Linked DNA regions of Homo sapiens. The protein of the gene in region 1 interacts with the protein of each later gene in a pairwise test. Each region holds a gene or a part of one and is shown on either strand. Other genes may lie near its edges.

The links.
Region 2: the proteins of TTC33 (region 1) and SMYD1 interact in a two-hybrid assay, tested with the Homo sapiens proteins (one large-scale study listed by BioGRID and IntAct).
Region 3: the proteins of TTC33 (region 1) and PSMB1 interact in binary tests that used the Homo sapiens proteins (3 or more experiments, as listed by UniProt).

What each region holds. Positions count from the first base shown.
Region 1 is NC_000005.10:40,752,546-40,758,365, reverse strand, and holds the start of TTC33 (tetratricopeptide repeat protein 33), read left to right. Parts: upstream 1-2,404; 5' UTR 2,405-2,542; exon of another isoform or gene 2,543-2,672; intron 2,673-5,820.
Region 2 is NC_000002.12:88,088,325-88,091,824, forward strand, and holds part of SMYD1 (histone-lysine N-methyltransferase SMYD1), read left to right. Parts: intron 1-2,687; coding exon 2,688-2,818; intron 2,819-3,500. UniProt on the Homo sapiens protein: Methylates histone H3 at 'Lys-4' (H3K4me), seems able to perform both mono-, di-, and trimethylation. Acts as a transcriptional repressor. Essential for cardiomyocyte differentiation and cardiac morphogenesis.
Region 3 is NC_000006.12:170,546,808-170,550,307, reverse strand, and holds part of PSMB1 (proteasome subunit beta type-1), read left to right. Parts: intron 1-1,194; coding exon 1,195-1,302; intron 1,303-3,500. UniProt on the Homo sapiens protein: Non-catalytic component of the 20S core proteasome complex involved in the proteolytic degradation of most intracellular proteins. This complex plays numerous essential roles within the cell by associating with different regulatory particles.

The DNA of each region.
Region 1 (5,820 bases):
AAAACTTAGTGGGAGCTACCCTTAAACACAGTAGAGGAGATCAGGGTTAGGTTACTTGAGAGATTTAGCAAAGACCCCTAGGTAGGGGGCACAGCTTCAAGTACCATTTACTCACTCTGCAACCTCTATTCCTTCTTATTGGCTACTATGAACTAATGACACTATGAATGTGACCATAAGATAAATCTTCCCTCTGCATGTCTTGTTAGGGAGGTACATGTTTTCTTATTTAAGACTTTCATAGACATATATACAGAAAAGTGCACAAATGAGTATTTGGCTTAATGAGTTTTCAGTATTTCAGGTACACAGGAAACATGACCATGTAAACCTCTAGGCAGATTAAGAAACATTGCCACCATCTTAGTGTCTTTCATAATTAATATCGGAAGTGATAAACGGTCACTTCTGCCCTCTTCTGTAGGTAACACAGACCAACCGTGGTACAATATAGGAAGGCAGTGCATAAGGATGTGAATGCCAGGAGTGAATGCCATCTTGGAGGCTGGCTACCGCAGTCATGCATTGATCGTTTTCAAATACTACTGGTTCACTTATGCAGCCTGCACAAATATTGATGTATTTAAGCAAACAATGTAAATAAAAGTCACAACTGATAATCACTTATATCAGAAAATTCTGGAGATACTGGGAAGCTGCCAAGATCATTATGGTGAATACCATTTTTCCAAAATCATATTTTTTTTTTGCCTAAAATCTTGAATTTTATCATTGGCAACAAACTCAATTTTTTTTTCTTTCCTCCCTCCCTCCCTATTTCTCTTTTTTCCTTTCCTTTCCCCTTCCCCTTTCCCTTTCCTTGTTTTTCTTGAAGTTACAGATTCCCTTTGTTCATTTTCAAGAAAGGTTTGTCAAATACCCAAGTCCGAATAACCGGTTTGTCACTCATCTTAGTAAAATTTGTGTTCCAGGAAAAAAAAGTATTTACTTCAGTTTATAATGCCATCTCACAGTAGCTCTTCTTTGATACGTCATACTTCAATATGCAGCAGAAGTACTTTGTGAGGACTTCCAAGTTTTTACAAAGAATATTAAGTGTCGGAGTGGTTATAATAAAGTAACTTTTACAACTTCATCAGGGATATTCTCTGGTGACAGCGTTCATTTTTCCATTTTTTTTTTTTTTTTTGAGACCGTGCCTTGCTCTGTCATCCAGGCTGGAATGCAGTGGCATGACCTCGGCTCACTGCAGCCTCGACCTCCCAGGCTCAAGGGATCCTCCCACCCCAGCCTCCCGAGTAGTTGGGATTCAGGTGCGTGCCGCCAGGCCTGGCTAATTTTTGTATTTTTGGTAGAGATGGGGTTTCGCCATGTTGGCCAGGCTGGTCTCGAACTCCTGACCTCCCAAAGTGCTAAGATTACAGGCGTGAACCACCGCGCCCGGCCCATTTTTCTTACTGTGAGCGTGTGGTGGTGAAGAGCTCCAGTACGGTTTGGTGTCATTACTGTAATTCCTGTGGAGGGGCCAGCACCTTGACCTACCATTGCTTTTCCACCATCAGTGCAAATGTCAGCATTGTGCAAAGGGCAAATCACGTCTTCATATTAGTATGAAAATAATTTTGGCTTTGAAAGGGTGTCATTGACCCTCAGGACAATCGTTGGTCGACATCAGTGGTTCTCAACGGGGCAGGGTGGGAGGGATAGTTTTTCTTCCAGGGGAAATTTCACTGGGGAAACCATTGGCTGTCACAATCGACTGGTGGTGACATCCCGTGGACAGAGACCAGAGATGCTGCTAAGCACCCTACAATGCACAGAACACCCCGTCCCCCAACAAAGCATTATCCAGTTTGAAATGTTAATGGTGCTGAGGCTGAGAAAGTATGACTTCCAAAAATGAGTCTTTTGGGCAGGAGAGTTGGAGAAATTAACAATCTTGATTACCTTTATTACATGTGCTCGTTTATTTTCAAGACATGATGCACAGCTACGTTCTGGCTGTAATTCTGCCTTCTGGGTCCAACTCACTTGTAACTTTAACGTGAAGCCTGCAGTTCAGCCTCGAGCCTCCCTGACTAGCCTCCCCGCCCGGCCGCCTCGAGCCCTTTATAACCGAATTTTGCCTCTCTGTTCTCTGCGTCTGGCCGACCTCATCAGCTAGGCTATAAACCCCTTCGGGGAAGGAGCATATCCTAATCCTTTGAATCCCGTAAAATAAGTTTTCCCCTCACCTTGTTCCCCACTGACGGGACGCGAGGCTGCGCGGTACCGCGGGGGCGGCTCCTCTCGGTGCGCTCTTCAGCCCGCGCAGCCTCATTTTCCCGCGCTCGTGCGCTGCGGTCACTCAGGGCTGCTGCTAGAGGGCGCGCCCAGCCGCGTGGCCCTGACTACTACAAATCCCAGAAGGTCATGCAGTGGGGGCGGCCGCGGTGACTTCTGGGATTTGTGGTCCCGGAGAAGAGATTGGCGGAGGGGAAAGACTGAGTCGTCTTTCCTTTGCCCGCTTCTGTGGACTGTTCGAACGCCCAGGGGTGGGCCAAACCCGTTTCTTAGGAAACCAGGAATCCAGGGAAGGCAGGTAGGAATTTGGGCGTGATAATTTCTGCTTCCAGTGGGAAAGAATGTAAACACGGGGCCTTGGGAGCCGTTATCGGGTAACTGGGGCTGCCCGGTCGGCGGTGGAAGCTGAGGAAGAGGAGGAAAAAGAGGCGAGTGGGTGTTGTGATTAGGGGAGAAAGGACCTTCGGAATAGGAGTTGAAACCCGACGGGATCCGGCAGAGCCTGGTCGCTAGGGTTGGTCTCCAGGGACAAGCGAGTCTGAGGGTCGGGCCCGCCGTGGCACCTTCGCGGAGCTGCGCGGCCGCAACCTTCCCTGAGCGGTGGGACGGGCGGGACGAGCCGGCCGCTCCCCGCTGGAGAGGTGTCTGCGGCCCGGGGCGGTCCGTGAACGCGCAGGTGACGTCCGGGGCAGCCTTTCTGAGCGTTTTTATTATTGTTGACCGATGAAGGGAAAGTCACTAATACTGGTTTTTCTCTTGCGGTGGCGTTTTTGGGTAAATCGTTTCTTGGATTCCTCACCTCTGAATACCTCCTTTTACCCAGAAGGATGCTGTTGTGATTTCCTGATCTTGTTCATGTAGTGGTTTTTCCCTTTGGGTGCTGCATCCTCAGACACACTCAAGACAAGCCCTCTCTGGCGGCTGGGTAAATGTGAAGCCGTCGCCAGTTGTTGAGCGCCTACTATAGGGATCTTTGTAACAGTACAGGAATTTAGAATACAGCGTCGTTGTTTAGAATCGTTATGCCATTCCTGAAATATAATCCTATATAAAAGGTTGAATTTGTCTGGTTTCATGAGTTTAACATGAAACCGGTGTGGATTGTGGTTTACTCTCATGGTTTCTTACTCTGGTAAAAAAATGTTAAGTCTAGGATGTTGAAGCCTCGTGCTTCTAACTAGACTCAGGAAAGCCTCCTTCATAAGAAGTTTTAATTTCATGTTCAGATAGTCATAGAGGAACAATAAACTCGTTCGGCTTAAGATATCTGAAACAACTGGGAATGTTAAATTTTCTAATGCAGAAAGTGCTTTGCATGCTCTAGGATTCACATACCTTTTTAAGCCTGGCTAAGTTTTCTTCAAAGCTTAAGTCCTCCAGAAAGCCTCAAGTGTCTCTTCTCTGATGTCATGGCATCCTTTGTTTACTCTCTTGTAGCACATATCGTGTATGAAATTGACTGTACTCTGTGGTTTCCAGACACTTTTGAAGAAAATATAAAACTTTGCTAATGGCCTTGATAACAGATTCATGCTTTTACACAGTAGTGGGCCCTTGATACTACTGTTTGGTATCTCTATTTTTCCTTTGTTGCTTTTCCTTATCTCCACAGTGACTATTTTAGTCTTTTCCCTTTTTCTCAAGAACTCAGATCTGTTATTTTCCTTTTACTTTGAGCAGATGACTAGCCGCTGTTTGCTGGAGAAATGTGAAGCTTGGGGCATGAAATTCCTCATTTTCCTTTCCCTCCATCCCTGAACTTGCCTGTATGTTTCACTCAATATTAACTCCTTTTTTTGTCTGAGAGGACTGTATTTTTGTCTCCCTCTTTCAGGTTAAACTTGTCGATTGCTAGTGGCATCAGGCCTCCCACACCCTCATAACCTCAGTCTGTCCTGACCTCTGCAGCCCCTGATCTCTAGGTCTCAAGGGATCTGTGGAGGAGAATGGCTCAAACACCTGAGGCAATAGTGGCGTGGTTTTTTCACATATGGTTGAGAGCCACCACCTTGGGCCATAACTTATACTTGTCCCCAGCATTTATAACAGTGGTTTGGGTTGGAAGATGGGGAGGGTAATTGGAATCTGAATGACCTATTAATTTTAAAAGATGTGTGGGTCTGTTTCTCACTTTTTCCTTTCCTTCCCACCCTATCACAGCCCCTCATGTAATCTACAGATCTGATCAACGGTTTTTTTTTTTACTTTTTTTTCTTTTGATCAATGATTTTTATTGTAGTTTACCTCCAGTAAACACACTAGGTGTCCTTTAGTATGAGTAGGGTTCCCACAGTGCCTGGTGCCTCACCTTATGAATAAAGAAAGTTTCATTTGGAATCTTGAAACCGGAAAACGTGGTCATCATTCTTGTTACCATTAGGGATAATCATAAATACAAGACTTCTTTTTATCTTGTCTTACACTGATATCTTGTGAGTCTTTCCTAATGATCTGTATTTTCTCAGGTTGTCCTCACTGTGTGCCTTTTAACTTCTGTTCCATAGTATCCACACTTCTGTTTTCAGCCATCTTCCCCTACAATACTCATAGTCATCTTCAAACATGGGAAACTCATTCTCCTATAATATGATCGGCCTGGGGAGAGAGTTTGCATTGTCCTTATTCCCCAGCACAGTTTATAATCCATTAGTCCTCCAGGTTTTAAAAAAAATCTCAGTTCCTGTGGAAAGTTTGTGGTTCACTTATATTATCAGCCTGTATATTTCTTTCTTTCTTTCTTTCTTTCTTTTTTTTTTTGAGATGGAGTTTTGCTCGTGTCGCTCAGGCTGGAGTGCAATGGTGCAATCTCGGCTCACTGCAACTTCTACCTCCTAAGTTCAAGCGATTCTCCTGCCTTAGCCTCCCAAGTAGCTGGGATTACAGGCATGTGCCACCATGCCCAGGTACTTTTTGTATTTTTGTAGAGACGGGGTTTCACCATGTTGGCCAGGCTTGTCTTGAACTCCTGACCTCAGGTGATCCGCCTGCCTCTGCCTCCCAAAGTGCTGGGATTACAGGTGTGAGCCACCGCGCCCAGCCTGTATATTTCTTGATTGCTGTGATTTATTGGCACTCTCTCATATTCATTAAGAACTCAGACATACGACTCACAATTTTCTTACCCCTCCAAATTCTGCCATTACGGTAGGTCTTTCCATGTGAATGACCTCATAGCCACCCTCACTTTTTTTCTCACCTTCCTTCTAGTGATTACAGGGATCATTTTATTGTGCTTCACTTTATCACACTTCATAGATACTGCGTTTTTGCACATTGCAAGTGCTCAGTAACCCTGTGTCCAGCAAGTCTTTTCGTGCTATTTGTCCAATAGCATGTGTGCACTTAGTGTCTCTGTGCTACATTTTGGTAATTCTTGAAATATTTCAGATGTTTTAATTATTACTATATCTGTTATGGTGATCTGTAATCGATGATCTTTGGTGTTAACAATTGTAATCATTTTGGGTTGCCATGAACCATGCCCATATGAGATGGTGAACTTAATCAATAAATGTGTGTTTTGAATGCTGTACCACCAACTGGCTATTCCCATCTCTCTTCTTCTCCTTGGGTCTC
Region 2 (3,500 bases), on another chromosome or scaffold:
CAGGCCTCCAAATGACCCAACTAATAAAATCCGGAGATTCTAGAGTATGATTCCTTATCAAGGAGGGGCCATGGTGACAGCTGGGATCGTCCAACTAAGAAGTTTCCAGAAACTGTCAGGCCAGAGTTGGGAGGGGAGGCCAAGAGGACTGAAGGAGGACAGGAGTTTGAAGTGAAGACCCCTCATCCTGGACTCTGTCTTCTGGCCTTGTTTACTGTGAGGCCATTCCTGCTGTATCTGAATTGGCATCCCACATACAAATTTTACTTATTTATCCATCTCTGGATGGTAGATTTGGATGGTAATTTATCCTCTTACTTATCTGCACTTTTTACATTTTTTTCCTCTCCACGTTGAAAATAAAGACCCCCAATCACTATCCCTTCCTGCCCACCAGTCACTTTGGAAACCTTTTTCCAGGTCTGCCAGGCAGGATTGATGTGAAGCCTGGAGCAGTGGGGGATGTGAGCCAGAGAGAGGGGAGTCAGGGTTTTGGGGTGGGAGCAACCAAGCCAGACGAGGCCATAAGAGTCCGGGAAGTGGGGGCGAGAACCCGGTGGATGAGGAGGCTCAGGTCCTGGCTGTGGGGATGGATGTGTTCCATCTGGTAGGCCAGGACCTTTATGTGGTGAAGGTGAGCAGGCTGAGGACGGAGGAGGACAAACATCACACTGACATCTCTCCAGTCTTCACCATATTGGGGGGCAAAGGGAGAGAGATTGATTGAGTCTAAGGATTTGGCTCACGCAATGGTGGAGGCTTGGTAAGTCCAAAATCTGCAAGGTAGGCCATCAGGCTGGAGATCAGGGAAGTGTTGCAGTTCAAGTCCGGAGGCATTCTGCTGGCAGAACTCCTTGCTCAGGGGAGATCAGTCTTTATTCTATTCAGGTCTTCAACTGATTAAATGAGGCCCACCCACATTCTAGCAGGCACTCTGCTTTACTCAAACTCCACCAATTTAAATGTGAATCTCATCCAAAAACACCTTCACAGAAGCATACATTATAGTATTTGACCAAATATCTGGGCACCATTGACCAGCCATGTGGGCACACAAAATTAACCACCACAGCTTCCCATGTATTATTTTACACAATCTTTACAACACAAGGTAAGGTCCATGCTTTCAGTATTTCTATTTTATAGAACAGAAAACCTAGGCCCAGAGGGGTTACATGACCTCCAAAAGCCACATGGTCAGCTTGTGCCCAGGGAAAGTCTAGAAGCAGTCTGTATTTTCAGGAGCCAGAGCTTCTACCTGTTTTTTTTTTTTTTTTTTTTTTTTGAGATGAGGGTCTTACTCTGTCACTCAGGCTGGAGTGCAGTGGTGCAATCATGGTTCATTGCAAACTCCATCTTCCAGGCTCAAGTGATCCTCCCGCCTCCCAAGTAGCTGGGACCACAGATGCATACCACTATGCCTGGTTAATTTTTGCTTTTTTTTTTTTATAGAAGCAGGGTTTCACCATATTGCCCAGGCTGATCTCAAACTCCTGAGCTCAAGTGATCTGCCCATCTCTGCCTTCCAAAGTGCTGGGATTACAGGCGTAAGCCACCACGCCTGGCCTAAGCTTTTACTTTTACCTGTTATGTTCTATAGCCTTGGGGTGAATTGGTGTGTTGAGTAATCTTCGGCATCCCTGATAGGTCTGGGGACTAGGGCTAGAGGTCATATAATTACCAAAGGTTAGAGCTGAAAAGATCCTTGGAGCTTATCTAGTCCAATTTATTCAACCTATAGATGGGAAAACCAGGGCTCAGAGAAGAAAGAAGTTTGCTCCAAGTAGTACAGCTTGTTAGTGGTACTCAGAGGCTTAACATCATGAACTTACTAAATGTCTGATGAGAATAAATGGAGAAAGTGACACTCCTCCATATCTATGACAAATATCCATGTGAGGGCATAAATGTCTACTGAGTTTCTGTTATGTACAGCATGTATTCATAGATGTATTTATAGATGAAGTGGAAATCTGCATGCAGTTACTAATGTATTCTACGTTATATTTATTCTTATGTATTTTTCCTACTGTGAGAGCAGATATTTGGTGTCTGTTTCTGTAAAGAAAAATTTATTTTTAAGGAAAAGAAAATCACTTGGATGCCACATCAGTAGTAACCAACTTGATTTGCCTTGAATCTCAGAGATAAGTGTTAAATATGGCACTCATCAGATTTAACAACTGTGAGCAGGGAATATAAAACTATGCACCAGATACAAAATAATCAAAAGAGATGTCAATTTTTTTTTATGAACAGCTACAGGAGTTTAAACTGAGTAGGCAGAGGAAACAGGGGAAGGAAAAGCTCACACACACACACACGCCCACGCGCACACAAAGCAGGGTACAGAGAGAAAAACCAAGACAGAGACTGAGGAATACTCATGTAAGACCCAGATACAGAAAAAGGAAAATATTTCCACCTTTGACTCTTTTAGAATAGAGCCACAAAAAACTTTCAAGGTAGGGCTGCATTTTTGCAGGTATGGGACTGTTCCATGGCCCTAATCTTGTGTGTCATCTGGAGTCACGCAGAGAACAGGAGACTAATTGTTCTGTGTCCAGACTCCCTAAGCATCTCCAGGGTGAGACTGGGTCTTCTGTTTTTTAAAACTCCTTTCAACAGCTAGGATGTTGTTCTGTCCATGTCTGTCGACTGACTCTTTCATCTTTTCCCCTGGGTAGATTAACTGCAACGGTTTTACTCTCAGTGATCAGAGAGGCCTGCAGGCCGTGGGCGTAGGCATCTTCCCCAACCTGGGCCTGGTGAACCATGACTGTTGGCCCAACTGTACTGTCATATTTAACAATGGCAAGTGAGTATGTCTTTATGTGGGGGTGTGTGTGAAGGGGATGGGGAGACCTATGGTGTTTTCTCCACTTGACTTAAGCCAAAGTCAACCTGCTAAACCTGAACTAGCATAAATTTTAAATGTATAGCACATAGAAATCTCATTCCAGAATAATTGTGAATGAGAGAAAGGCATCATGGAGGATATCAAAGAATTCAACCTGGGTCATTTCTGAATGTGTATGTTTCTTGGGGCTGCCTGGACAGGTTAGATAAACCTTTAACTACTATTTTAAAACTTGAAGCCTAGGATTATCTGTCTAGAGGTCATTTAGTCAAGGTCTCAGCAGGAATCAGGAGGCACACTCAAAAGGTTTTACCCAAATAGAATTGAATGAAGGGACAATTTACAGAAGTGTGGACAGGGTTTAAGATACTAACAAGGGGCAGGGACTGGTGGCTCATGCCTGTAATCCCAGCTCTTTGGGAGCCCGAGGAGGGGGCGGATCACTTGAGGTCAGGAGTTTGAGATCAGCGTGGACAACACAGTGATACCCCCGTATCTATAAAAAATAAATAAATACATAAATAAATACATTAGCCGGGCATGGTGGTGTGTGCCTGCAGTCCCAGCTACTCATGAGGATGAGGCAGGAGGATCACTTGACCTCAGGAGGTTGAGGCTGCAGTGAACTATAATCATGCCA
Region 3 (3,500 bases), on another chromosome or scaffold:
GCTGCCTGAATGAGTTGCTTGAATGTATGTACTATTTGAATAATTACCTGTTTGCCATTGCTTGCTGTTTATATTACCTGGAATGCCATCCTTTTCTTCTTGAGAGCTTTAGCACAAATCCCTCCTCAGTAAAAATAGTGGCTTAAGTTTCCTGAGTGCTTACGTCTGTGAGGCACCATGCCTTTAATTTCCACTATTGCATTGAAGCAGTGGTTATAGTTATCAGTCAAGCCTTGTACATTAAAATATACACACCCAAATATATATACACACCTTGTGACACAGGTACTGTTATCATCAACTTGCATTTGGAGGATTTGTCCAAGATCACATACCTAGTAAGTAGCAAGAGTGGGTCTCTGTCTCATGTAATTCCAGAGCCCAGGTGCTTAGTCATACTCCAGTGCCATAGCACTTATAGCTAACACTTACTAGAGGACCAGTTACATGTCAGGGACTGCTATAAGGGCTTACATATTTGATCCTTTGAACACCCTAATGAGGTAGCAACTGCAGTGATCTCTGTTGTATATATGATGAAATTGACGCTTTGAGAAGTAACTTACCCACAGTCTCATATCTGCGAAACGGGAAAGCCAGAATTAGAACCCAGGCGGTCTGCTTTTGGAATTCTACTGTAAGTCTCTTTGATAAGCTGTCAAATTGTACAGCCACAGAGGGAAAAATTTACTGTTTGTCCATCTATTTGTCATTATATAAGGGATTGGGTATAAAGAAATAAGCATTATATAGGCGTTATATAAGGACTTGGATATAAAGAAATGAAGCAAGAAAAAAAAATCTCATCTTCTCTAAACTCATAGAGCTTGCGTTGTAGTACCACTGTCTATACCTGATCCTCAAGGGCACAGATGTGGTATTTAGTTGTTCTGTATTAGTAGTACCTTGCGCGAGTAAGTATTTAATGTGTTGGTGATGATAATTCATTGGCTTTTCTGTTAACTCCTGCCAAGGAGACTTTGCCCTGATTTAGGCTTATTAATAATTTTTTTTTCCCAGACAACTCGTAGCCAGGCGTTCATTCTCTTCCCGCTCATCTTTCCTCTTCCCATTTGAATCATGTTTTTGTTGACATCTAGAGTATTTTATCCCATTATGTACTATGGAGCATTCTTCTATTTGTAGGGATAGGATTACCACCCTGGAGAATTAATTTTTTTCTTTTTTCCTCAGTACTATACTGGCAATTGCTGGAGAAGATTTTGCAATTGTTGCTTCTGATACTCGATTGAGTGAAGGGTTTTCAATTCATACGCGGGATAGCCCCAAATGTTACAAATTGTAAGTAAATATTTCTAAAGACATTTCACAATGCCTTTGTAATGATTTGATGTTGTGAGAGTTTCTACTTCTAAATGATTTGTTTCATGAGTTTTTAAGTTGCTGTTGGGAGCATTTTTATTAGAAAACCATTTTCTAAGTTAATGTTTCCTAATAATTTAATGTGCAGTCTTAATAATATTTGCTGTATTCAGGGTACCAAAAGTGCTTTCGGTAACCTAAATGTGTTCACCCCAGCATTTTACCATGAAAAATTTCCTGCTGTGTCTTAACATGGTGGAAGGCCAGAGAAAGAAAGAAGAGCAAGCGAACCCACTGCTGTGATAATGTCCATTCATGAAAGCTGAGCCCTAGGACCTAAACACCTGGTCCCAACTCCCAGTACCATCACAATGGCAATTAAATTTCAACATGAGTTTTGAAGGGAATATTCAAACCACAGCACCATTAATCCATTAAATGATATTTTTTTTAAATCTGCCTCCCCACACTTTTTTTTTTTACCTGAAACATTCGTTTTAGAAATATCCTAAGCAATTATGTCCACAGCTCAGTTTTAATAGGCTAGCTATGTTTTTCCTAAAACATGAAAATAAAGCCAAAACTTAAAAAAACAAAAAGCCTGCATAAATACTGAATACATACTGCAGATTGGCAGTGGTCTGTATTTACCAGTTTTGGAAATGCTTATAAATGGTCATGAATTCCTGGGTTAATTAAACTTGAATTGTAATAGGAATGGGACTTACGAGGTTTAGGTCCTTTGGATGGACCCTCCTTGTATTGTAGGAAGTAGGTACAGAAGAAAAGATACGTTGTCTTTCCTGCTCCTAGGGATGGCCCACATCTTAAAAAGCAATGAAGTTTGTTTTCGTCTTCCCAGTTCTGTTTCTCTCCACTTGCATCTTTTGATACCCCCTTTCTGCTTTCTGTTTATGGTGCTCTTGTGTTACCTTTTTTTCTCCTCAAGGACGACACTTGTACAACTTGAAAGTAGTAAATATTAGAAATAAGATTTTAAAACAACTTTATGGATACCATCCTTGTACTAGCTTTTACTCATCTTTTAAATATTGCTTTAGTTACGTTTGCTGGTGAAGTGAGCACTTTTTTTTTTTTTTTTTGTGAAACACGTCAGATATAGAGATAGAGAATAAGAACAATGCAGCATTAACGAATGCCTGTATATATCCCTCATCCCACGTCCTGTGGGTCTGACCTAGAACTAAGCTTGCCTCTTCCAAACCTGTTTCAGACTGTATTCTTTGCATGAAAACTCCCATTCCTTTGATGCACCTGGATATTTGGGAAAAGCATCTTGAAGTTCTAAGATTTCTGTCTTTCCCTGTTGGTATTGTCAACCAATCTTGTCAGTAAAGGCAGTAAAGCCTTATAGGGGATTGGACGTCTTCACCTTAGTGCAGTGAGGTTGATGGTAGGCATAGATCAGGTGATGTTAGTGATGACCCTAGAGGTGTCAGCTGCTCTCCTAGTAGGACAGGTATGGTTTGTGCGAGTCATTCGTAAGTTTCCAAGAGGAATTGTGTGGCCTCTGCAAAATATTGTTTAGGTTTCTTTATAGATTCATATCAAGATCTAGGAATTAATTTTTGAAATACACGGTTGAATTTGTATGTCTATACCAAATTTTAATCCTCTCCATACAGATGGACATTTAGGTTTTGTTTTGTTTTGGGGTGCTATTTAAATGAGTACTCACTGGTGAGTCTAGAGCATCCCTTTGCATACTTGGATAAGTATATTAACAAGATGGATTTCTAGCAATAGAATTGGTGAGAGTGGTGTGTATTTAAATTTTTAATAAATACCACCAAATTGCCCATCTAACAGGTTAATCAGTTTATACTGTTTCCACAACCTCACCAGCATTTAGTTAGTTAGGCATTTTTAGCCAGTATAATTGGTTGAAATAGTCTCTTTTTGAGATTTGGATTTCTGAGTAACATAGAGGCTCTTATGTTTATGGTGACTTAATGTCTCTTTTTTCTGTGACTTGTCTGTTCATAGAAGTTACCCATCTTTCCTTTATGTTATTGCTTTCCTTATTTGTAAGAATTTTTATAGAATTAAAATTAGACTTTGGGGGTAGATGCTACTAATATATTTTCTTAGGGTTTTAAAAAGCTATTCTTAAATTTCCCTGTAGAATTTTATGTAGTCAAATTTATGAAATTTTT